Regions from separate parts of the Homo sapiens genome. Here region 2 is reported to be linked to region 1. Evidence: microRNA targets listed by miRTarBase, many of them from high-throughput screens and not tested one by one. Region 1 holds a microRNA gene; the other region holds the end of a gene's coding sequence.
The links. Region 1 holds the annotated microRNA hsa-miR-5585-3p (CUGAAUAGCUGGGACUACAGGU, at 2,407-2,428, opposite strand). A microRNA usually pairs through its seed, bases 2 to 8, with sites in the 3' UTR of a target mRNA and lowers its output. Matches are read on the target gene's strand: a 7mer-m8 pairs with bases 2 to 8, a 7mer-A1 pairs with bases 2 to 7 and ends in A, and an 8mer does both.

Region 1 (4,402 bases):
AAACCTGTAATCCCAGCACTTCGGGAGGCAGAGGTAGAGAAACTGCTTGAGCCATGAGATCAAGACCAGCCTGGGCAAGATGGCGAAACCCTTGTCTCTACAAAAAATACAAAAAGTAGCCAGACTACATGCCTATAGTTGCAGCTATTTGGGAGGTGGAGGTGGGAAGATCACCTGATCCTAGCGGGGTTCAAGGCTGCAATGAGCTGAGATCACACTACTGCACTCCAGCCTGGGTGACAGAATGAGACCCTGTCTAAAAAAAAAAAAAAAAAAAAAAAATTCCCAGCTCTGCCACTTACTAGCTCTGTGATTTATGGCAAGTTATTTAACCTCTATGAGCCTCAGTTTCCTTAACTTGCCCTAAATTACATAGCTTGTATTGATCCCACTCTCAGCAAGGTATTACACTAGTTTTCTCATAAATACTGTCTTTTAGTCCTACAACAACCCTTAGCATAGTTTCTGGCCCAGAATAGATGATCAATAGAATTTTGACTAGAAAAGGAAGAGGCCAGTGATTCTATGGGGACAGGAAAAAAGACTAAAATGGCATTCCCGAAATACTCTTCAGGGTATCTTGTGGTAATGAGGGGGCGGGGGCACCTATGTGAACATACAAAGGTCTCCAGCTTAAACTTAAAGAATCTCGCTGGCTTTGTCTCTAAGAAGGACTGCAGATAGGTCCTATGATCAATTAAATTATTTGGTGACAGACTGCTCTGACAGGTTAGAAGTTAGAAGCAGCTTCATATGCATGATAGCAGATTCCCTCCCACCTCCTCCACCCTACATGTGAGTCTATCAAAGTAGAAAATAAATCTGTATCAGAAAAAAAAAAAAAAAAAATGGGAGTGAGGGTCATCAGTGCACAAATGATTCTGACAAATTTAGAAAGCAGATGGAGACATGATGACAGACGAAGAAGCAGTCATGGTCTAGAGCATCGCTTTCCAACAGAAAGATGAGTCACATAATTTTTATTTTTATTTTTTTTGAGACGGAGTCTGGCTCTGTCACCCAGGCTGGAGGGCAGTGGCGAGACCTTGGCTCACTGCAAGCTCCGCCTCCCAGGTTCACACCATTCTCCTGCCTCAGCCTCCCGAGTAGCTGGGACTACAGGCGCCCGCCACTATACCCGACTAATTTTTTTGTATTTTTGGTAGAGACGGGGTTTCACCATGTTAGCCAAGATTGTCTCAATCTCCTGATCTCGTGATCGCCCACTTCGGCCGCCCAAAGTGCTGGGATTACAGGCATGAGCCACCGTGCCTGGCTTTTTTTTTTGGAGATGGAGTCTGGCTCTGTCACCCAGGCTGGAGTACAGTGGCGAGATCTCAGCTAACTGCAAGCTCCACCTCCCAGGTTCACGCCATTCTTCTGCCTCAGCCTCCTGAGTAGCCGGGACTACAGGCGCCCGCCACCAGAGTCACATAATTTAGCCACATTAAAAAACAGAAGAGATGGGCCAGGTGTGGTGGCTCATGCCTGTAATCCCAGCACTTAGGGAGGCTGAGGCGGATGGATCACGAGGTCAGGAGATTGAGACGATTCTGGCTAACACAGTAAAACCCGTCTCTACTAAAAATACAAAAAATTAGCCGGGCGTGGTGGCAGGCGCCTGTAGTCCCAGCTACTCGGGAGGCTGAGGCAGGAGAATGGTGTGAACCTGGGTGGCGGAGCTTGCAGTGAGCAGAGATTGTGCCACTGCACTCCAGCCTGGGTGACAGACTCCGTCTCAAAAAAAAAAGAAAAAAAAAAAGAGAGATGAAATTATTATTATTATTATTTTGAGACAGTTTCACTCTTGTCGCCCAGGTTGGAGTGCAGTGGCATGATCTCGGCTCACTGCAACCTCTGCCTCCCAGGTTCAAGCGATTCTCCTGCCTCAGCCTCCCTAGTAGCTGGGATTACAAGCATGCACCACCACGCCTGGCTAATTTTGTGTTTTTAGTAGAGACGGGGTTTTTCCATGTTGGTCAGGCTGGTCTCGAACTCCTGACCTCAGGTGATCCGCTCGCTTTGGCCTCCCAAAGTGCTGGGATTACAGGTGTGAGCCACCGCACCCGGCCTTTTTTTTTTTTTTTTTTTTTTGTGAGACGGAGTCTCACTCTGTGCCCCAGACTGGAGTACAGTCGTGCATTCTCGGCTCACTGCAACCTCCCCCTCCCGGGTTCAAGAGATTCTCCTGCATCAGCCTCCTGAAATTAATTTTAAGATTCTATTTTACTTAACCCAATACATGCAAATACTATCACTTCAACATATAATGAATATTTTGAGATGTTTTACTTTCTTTTTTTTAATTAAGACAGGGTCTTGCTGTGTTGCGCAGGCTGCTGGAGGGCAGTGGCATAATCATGGCTCACTGCAGCCTCTACCTCCTAGGCTCAGGTGCTGGCACACACCTGTAGTCCCAGCTATTCAGGAGCAATCCTCTGACCTCTCGAGTAGCTGGTACTTCAGGTGCGTGCCACCATGCCCAACTAATTTTTATATTTTCTGTAGAGACAGGGTTCTGCCATGTTGCCCAGACTGGTCTCAAGCTCCTGGGCCTGATCCACCCTGCCTTGGCCTCCCAAAGTGTTGGGATTACAGGTGTGAGCCACTGTGCCCAGCCTCAGTTTCTCTCTCTTTTTTTTTTTTTGAGACAGGGCCTGGCTCTGTTTCCCAGGCTAGAGTGCAGTGGTGCAATCTCAGTTTATTGCAACCTCCACCTCCCAGGCTCAAGCCATCCTCCCACCTCAGCCTCCAAAGTAGCTGGGACTACAGGTGCAGGCTACCATGCCCAGCTAATTTTTGTATTTTTGGTAGAGATGGCATTTTGCCAAGTTGCCCAGGCTGGTCTCAAACTCCTGAGCTCAAGCCATCCGCCTGCCTCAGTCTCTCAAAGTGCTGGGATTACAGGCATGGGCCACCATGCCCAGCCTACTTTCTTTTTTGTGTGTGTACTAAGGGTTCAGAATCGGTGTGTATTTTACACTTAGAGCACATCTCAACTCAGACTACCCTATTTCATGTGCTCAATAACCAGGGGGGCTAGTAGCTACTCAACTGGACGGTACAAGTCTAGAATATGGCATGAGCGAACTGGACTGGAGGTGGGAGCTTATCTACCCAGAGTGACCCAAGAGAGACTCTGCCTTGAAGTGGGCACATATGATAGAAGATGAAGTGGGGAGCAGGTATGAATAAATGGGATTAAACAATGACCTATGTTTATTTATAAGAGTCAGTCCCTTTATTCCCCTACTCACCTCATACAACACACCCTGAAGGATTCTTTTCTAAAGAAATTGAGTAAACTGAGAATTGAGGTCTCTAATGGCGATATCTTAGAGTAACACCCCCACCACTCCCTTTCTGGCCTACGGAGGCTCAAAGCCTAACAACCAGCACTTCACTCACTCATCCTCAAAGCAAAGCCTGCCAGTCAGTGTGCCCTGCCCATGTACTTAAAGTTTCCAGTCAAAGCTCTTACCCCCTTAAACAATGACAGAGAGAAAGAAACTGCACTCCTGCTACTCAGTCCTTCATTTTTACATATAAAGAGACAAGCAAACAAGCCAACTATACTTGGAAAACAAGCAGCATGAAACAGAAAAATTGACCCCAGTGAAAAGACAAAATTGAGGAAAATAAGGGAATTTTTTTTTTTTTTTTGAGACAGAGTCTCGCTCTGTTGCCCAGGCTGGAGTGCAGTGGCGCAATCTCAGCTCACTGCAACCTCCACCTCCCGGGTTCAAGCAATTCTCCTGCCTCAGTCTCCCGAGTAGCTGAGATTACAGGCATGCACCACCACACCCAGCTAATTTTTGTATTTTTAGTAGAGACAGGGTTTCACCATGTTGGCCAGGCTGGTCTTGAACTCCTGACCTTGTGATCCACCCACCTTGGCCTCCCAAAGTGCAGGGATTACTGGCGTGAGCCACCACGCCCAGCCAAATAAGAGATTTTTAAAACAAGAATAGTATGCTATGAGAAAAGAACAATCAGCAAACATAGAGGCCTTAGAGATGAAAAATATGATTGCTGAAAAAATCTCAGTAAAAAAGCTAGAAGATAAAGTTGAGGAAATCTCTCCAAAGGCAATGCACATACAAAGAGAGAGAGAGAGAGAGATTAAATATTAGAGAAATATAGGAGAAAAAGATGACCAATCTATGAGGTCTACCATCTGATGAACAGAAATCCAGAGATAATAGAAAAAATTAAAAGGAAGATATTATCAAAGAAATATCAAAGGAAAATTTCCCCAAGCTAAAGAAGTACTCAAATCTCCAGGTTAAAAAAGTCCTAGAGTCCTGAAAGGATGAATGACAAACGTCCCACAACAGACACATCCTTTGAAATTTCAAGTAATCAAAAGATAAACAGAATATTCCTCAATGCTTTCAGAAAG
Region 2 (4,361 bases), not on the chromosome of region 1:
CCATGGGCAAGTCATTTGACGTGTCGGGGGAAGGGGAGGGTGGTTATCTGCCAGAGATATATTAACGTGTGCTCTGCCTAACTCCCAGGGTGTTTAAGCCTAAACGAGTCAACAGGTGCGTGTTTTTGAAAGCTCACTACTCCCCATCCTCTTCCTATATATCCATATATATCCAATAAAATCTGACTATTGTTTTCTAAAGTATATTGATTGGAAGAGTTGTTATCGAATCCAGTAATCTTGAATTGGAATGATTGAGTTAATGGCCATCAGCAAAGTGTGTATCTAAACTGGCTTGTGTTTTTTTTCAGATTCAAACTCAGATGACTTTGACCCTGCTTCCACCAAGAGCAAGTATGACTCTCTGGATTTTGATAGTTTACTGAAAGAAGCTCAGAGAAGCTTGCGCAGGTAACATGTTCCCTAGCTGAGGATGACAGAGGGATGGCGAATACCTCATGGGACAGCGCGTCCTTCCCTAAAGACTATTGCAAGTCATACTTAGGAATTTCTCCTACTTTACACTCTCTGTACAAAAACAAAACAAAACAACAACAATACAACAAGAACAACAACAACAATAACAACAATGGTTTACATGAACACAGCTGCTGAAGAGGCAAGAGACAGAATGATATCCAGTAAGCACATGTTTATTCATGGGTGTCAGCTTTGCTTTTCCTGGAGTCTCTTGGTGATGGAGTGTGCGTGTGTGCATGTATGTGTGTGTGTATGTATGTGTGTGGTGTGTGTGCTTGGTTTAGGGGAAGTATGTGTGGGTACATGTGAGGACTGGGGGCACCTGACCAGAATGCGCAAGGGCAAACCATTTCAAATGGCAGCAGTTCCATGAAGACACGCTTAAAACCTAGAACTTCAAAATGTTCGTATTCTATTCAAAAGGAAATATATATATATATATATATATATATATATATATATATAAATTAAAAAGGAAAGAAAACTAACAACCAACCAACCAACCAACCAACCACAAACCACCCTAAAATGACAGCCGCTGATGTCTGGGCATCAGCCTTTGTACTCTGTTTTTTTAAGAAAGTGCAGAATCAACTTGAAGCAAGCTTTCTCTCATAACGTAATGATTATATGACAATCCTGAAGAAACCACAGGTTCCATAGAACTAATATCCTGTCTCTCTCTCTCTCTCTCTCTCTCTCTTTTTTTTTTCTTTTTCCTTTTGCCATGGAATCTGGGTGGGAGAGGATACTGCGGGCACCAGAATGCTAAAGTTTCCTAACATTTTGAAGTTTCTGTAGTTCATCCTTAATCCTGACACCCATGTAAATGTCCAAAATGTTGATCTTCCACTGCAAATTTCAAAAGCCTTGTCAATGGTCAAGCGTGCAGCTTGTTCAGCGGTTCTTTCTGAGGAGCGGACACCGGGTTACATTACTAATGAGAGTTGGGTAGAACTCTCTGAGATGTGTTCAGATAGTGTAATTGCTACATTCTCTGATGTAGTTAAGTATTTACAGATGTTAAATGGAGTATTTTTATTTTATGTATATACTATACAACAATGTTCTTTTTTGTTACAGCTATGCACTGTAAATGCAGCCTTCTTTTCAAAACTGCTAAATTTTTCTTAATCAAGAATATTCAAATGTAATTATGAGGTGAAACAATTATTGTACACTAACATATTTAGAAGCTGAACTTACTGCTTATATATATTTGATTGTAAAAACAAAAAGACAGTGTGTGTGTCTGTTGAGTGCAACAAGAGCAAAATGATGCTTTCCGCACATCCATCCCTTAGGTGAGCTTCAATCTAAGCATCTTGTCAAGAAATATCCTAGTCCCCTAAAGGTATTAACCACTTCTGCGATATTTTTCCACATTTTCTTGTCGCTTGTTTTTCTTTGAAGTTTTATACACTGGATTTGTTAGGGGAATGAAATTTTCTCATCTAAAATTTTTCTAGAAGATATCATGATTTTATGTAAAGTCTCTCAATGGGTAACCATTAAGAAATGTTTTTATTTTCTCTATCAACAGTAGTTTTGAAACTAGAAGTCAAAAATCTTTTTAAAATGCTGTTTTGTTTTAATTTTTGTGATTTTAATTTGATACAAAATGCTGAGGTAATAATTATAGTATGATTTTTACAATAATTAATGTGTGTCTGAAGACTATCTTTGAAGCCAGTATTTCTTTCCCTTGGCAGAGTATGACGATGGTATTTATCTGTATTTTTTACAGTTATGCATCCTGTATAAATACTGATATTTCATTCCTTTGTTTACTAAAGAGACATATTTATCAGTTGCAGATAGCCTATTTATTATAAATTATGAGATGATGAAAATAATAAAGCCAGTGGAAATTTTCTACCTAGGATGCATGACAATTGTCAGGTTGGAGTGTAAGTGCTTCATTTGGGAAATTCAGCTTTTGCAGAAGCAGTGTTTCTACTTGCACTAGCATGGCCTCTGACGTGACCATGGTGTTGTTCTTGATGACATTGCTTCTGCTAAATTTAATAAAAACTTCAGAAAAACCTCCATTTTGATCATCAGGATTTCATCTGAGTGTGGAGTCCCTGGAATGGAATTCAGTAACATTTGGAGTGTGTATTCAAGTTTCTAAATTGAGATTCGATTACTGTTTGGCTGACATGACTTTTCTGGAAGACATGATACACCTACTACTCAATTGTTCTTTTCCTTTCTCTCGCCCAACACGATCTTGTAAGATGGATTTCACCCCCAGGCCAATGCAGCTAATTTTGATAGCTGCATTCATTTATCACCAGCATATTGTGTTCTGAGTGAATCCACTGTTTGTCCTGTCGGATGCTTGCTTGATTTTTTGGCTTCTTATTTCTAAGTAGATAGAAAGCAATAAAAATACTATGAAATGAAAGAACTTGTTCACAGGTTCTGCGTTACAACAGTAACACATCTTTAATCCGCCTAATTCTTGTTGTTCTGTAGGTTAAATGCAGGTATTTTAACTGTGTGAACGCCAAACTAAAGTTTACAGTCTTTCTTTCTGAATTTTGAGTATCTTCTGTTGTAGAATAATAATAAAAAGACTATTAAGAGCAATAAATTATTTTTAAGAAATCGAGATTTAGTAAATCCTATTATGTGTTCAAGGACCACATGTGTTCTCTATTTTGCCTTTAAATTTTTGTGAACCAATTTTAAATACATTCTCCTTTTTGCCCTGGATTGTTGACATGAGTGGAATACTTGGTTTCTTTTCTTACTTATCAAAAGACAGCACTACAGATATCATATTGAGGATTAATTTATCCCCCCTACCCCCAGCCTGACAAATATTGTTACCATGAAGATAGTTTTCCTCAATGGACTTCAAATTGCATCTAGAATTAGTGGAGCTTTTGTATCTTCTGCAGACACTGTGGGTAGCCCATCAAAATGTAAGCTGTGCTCCTCTCATTTTTATTTTTATTTTTTTGGGAGAGAATATTTCAAATGAACACGTGCACCCCATCATCACTGGAGGCAAATTTCAGCATAGATCTGTAGGATTTTTAGAAGACCGTGGGCCATTGCCTTCATGCCGTGGTAAGTACCACATCTACAATTTTGGTAACCGAACTGGTGCTTTAGTAATGTGGATTTTTTTCTTTTTTAAAAGAGATGTAGCAGAATAATTCTTCCAGTGCAACAAAATCAATTTTTTGCTAAACGACTCCGAGAACAACAGTTGGGCTGTCAACATTCAAAGCAGCAGAGAGGGAACTTTGCACTATTGGGGTATGATGTTTGGGTCAGTTGATAAAAGGAAACCTTTTCATGCCTTTAGATGTGAGCTTCCAGTAGGTAATGATTATGTGTCCTTTCTTGATGGCTGTAATGAGAACTTCAATCACTGTAGTCTAAGACCTGATCTATAGATGACCTAGAATAGCCATGTACTATAATGTGATGATTCTAAATTTGTACCTATGTGACAGACATTTTCAATAATGTGAACTGCTGATTTGATGGAGCTACTTTAAGATTTGTAGGTGAAAGTGTAATACTGTTGGTTGAACTATGCTGAAGAGGGAAAGTGAGCGATTAGTTGAGCCCTTGCCGGGCCTTTTTTCCACCTGCCAATTCTACATGTATTGTTGTGGTTTTATTCATTGTATGAAAATTCCTGTGATTTTTTTTAAATGTGCAGTACACATCAGCCTCACTGAGCTAATAAAGGGAAACGAATGTTTCAAATCTACTTCTGCTTTTCTTATTTATCGTAACCAAACTCCTGGCATGTTTCTCAGATCAGTACCCATTACTCGCTTATTATTATTCTATTTCCTCTCTGGCTCTCTTTCCCTTTCTCCTTGCTTTTCCATATTCATGGATGCATTTCAGCT

Region 2: miRTarBase lists PPARGC1A as a target of hsa-miR-5585-3p. Seed matches in the 3' UTR shown: 8mer at 893-900, 7mer-A1 at 1,622-1,628 and 7mer-A1 at 2,600-2,606.

Annotation. Positions count from the first base shown.
Region 1 is chr1:32,085,012-32,089,413 of GRCh38, reverse strand. MIR5585 (microRNA 5585) reads right to left here and starts at 2,465; the gene lies at 2,407-2,465. The region is part of intron 5 of TMEM39B (transmembrane protein 39B); the gene reads right to left.
Region 2 is chr4:23,791,876-23,796,236 of GRCh38, reverse strand. PPARGC1A (PPARG coactivator 1 alpha) reads left to right here. Exons shown (of 13, transcript NM_013261.5): 13 at 312-4,216. The coding sequence ends at 415. Among named protein-coding and RNA genes, the nearest start is that of PPARGC1A-AS1, 25 kb to the right of the region's middle.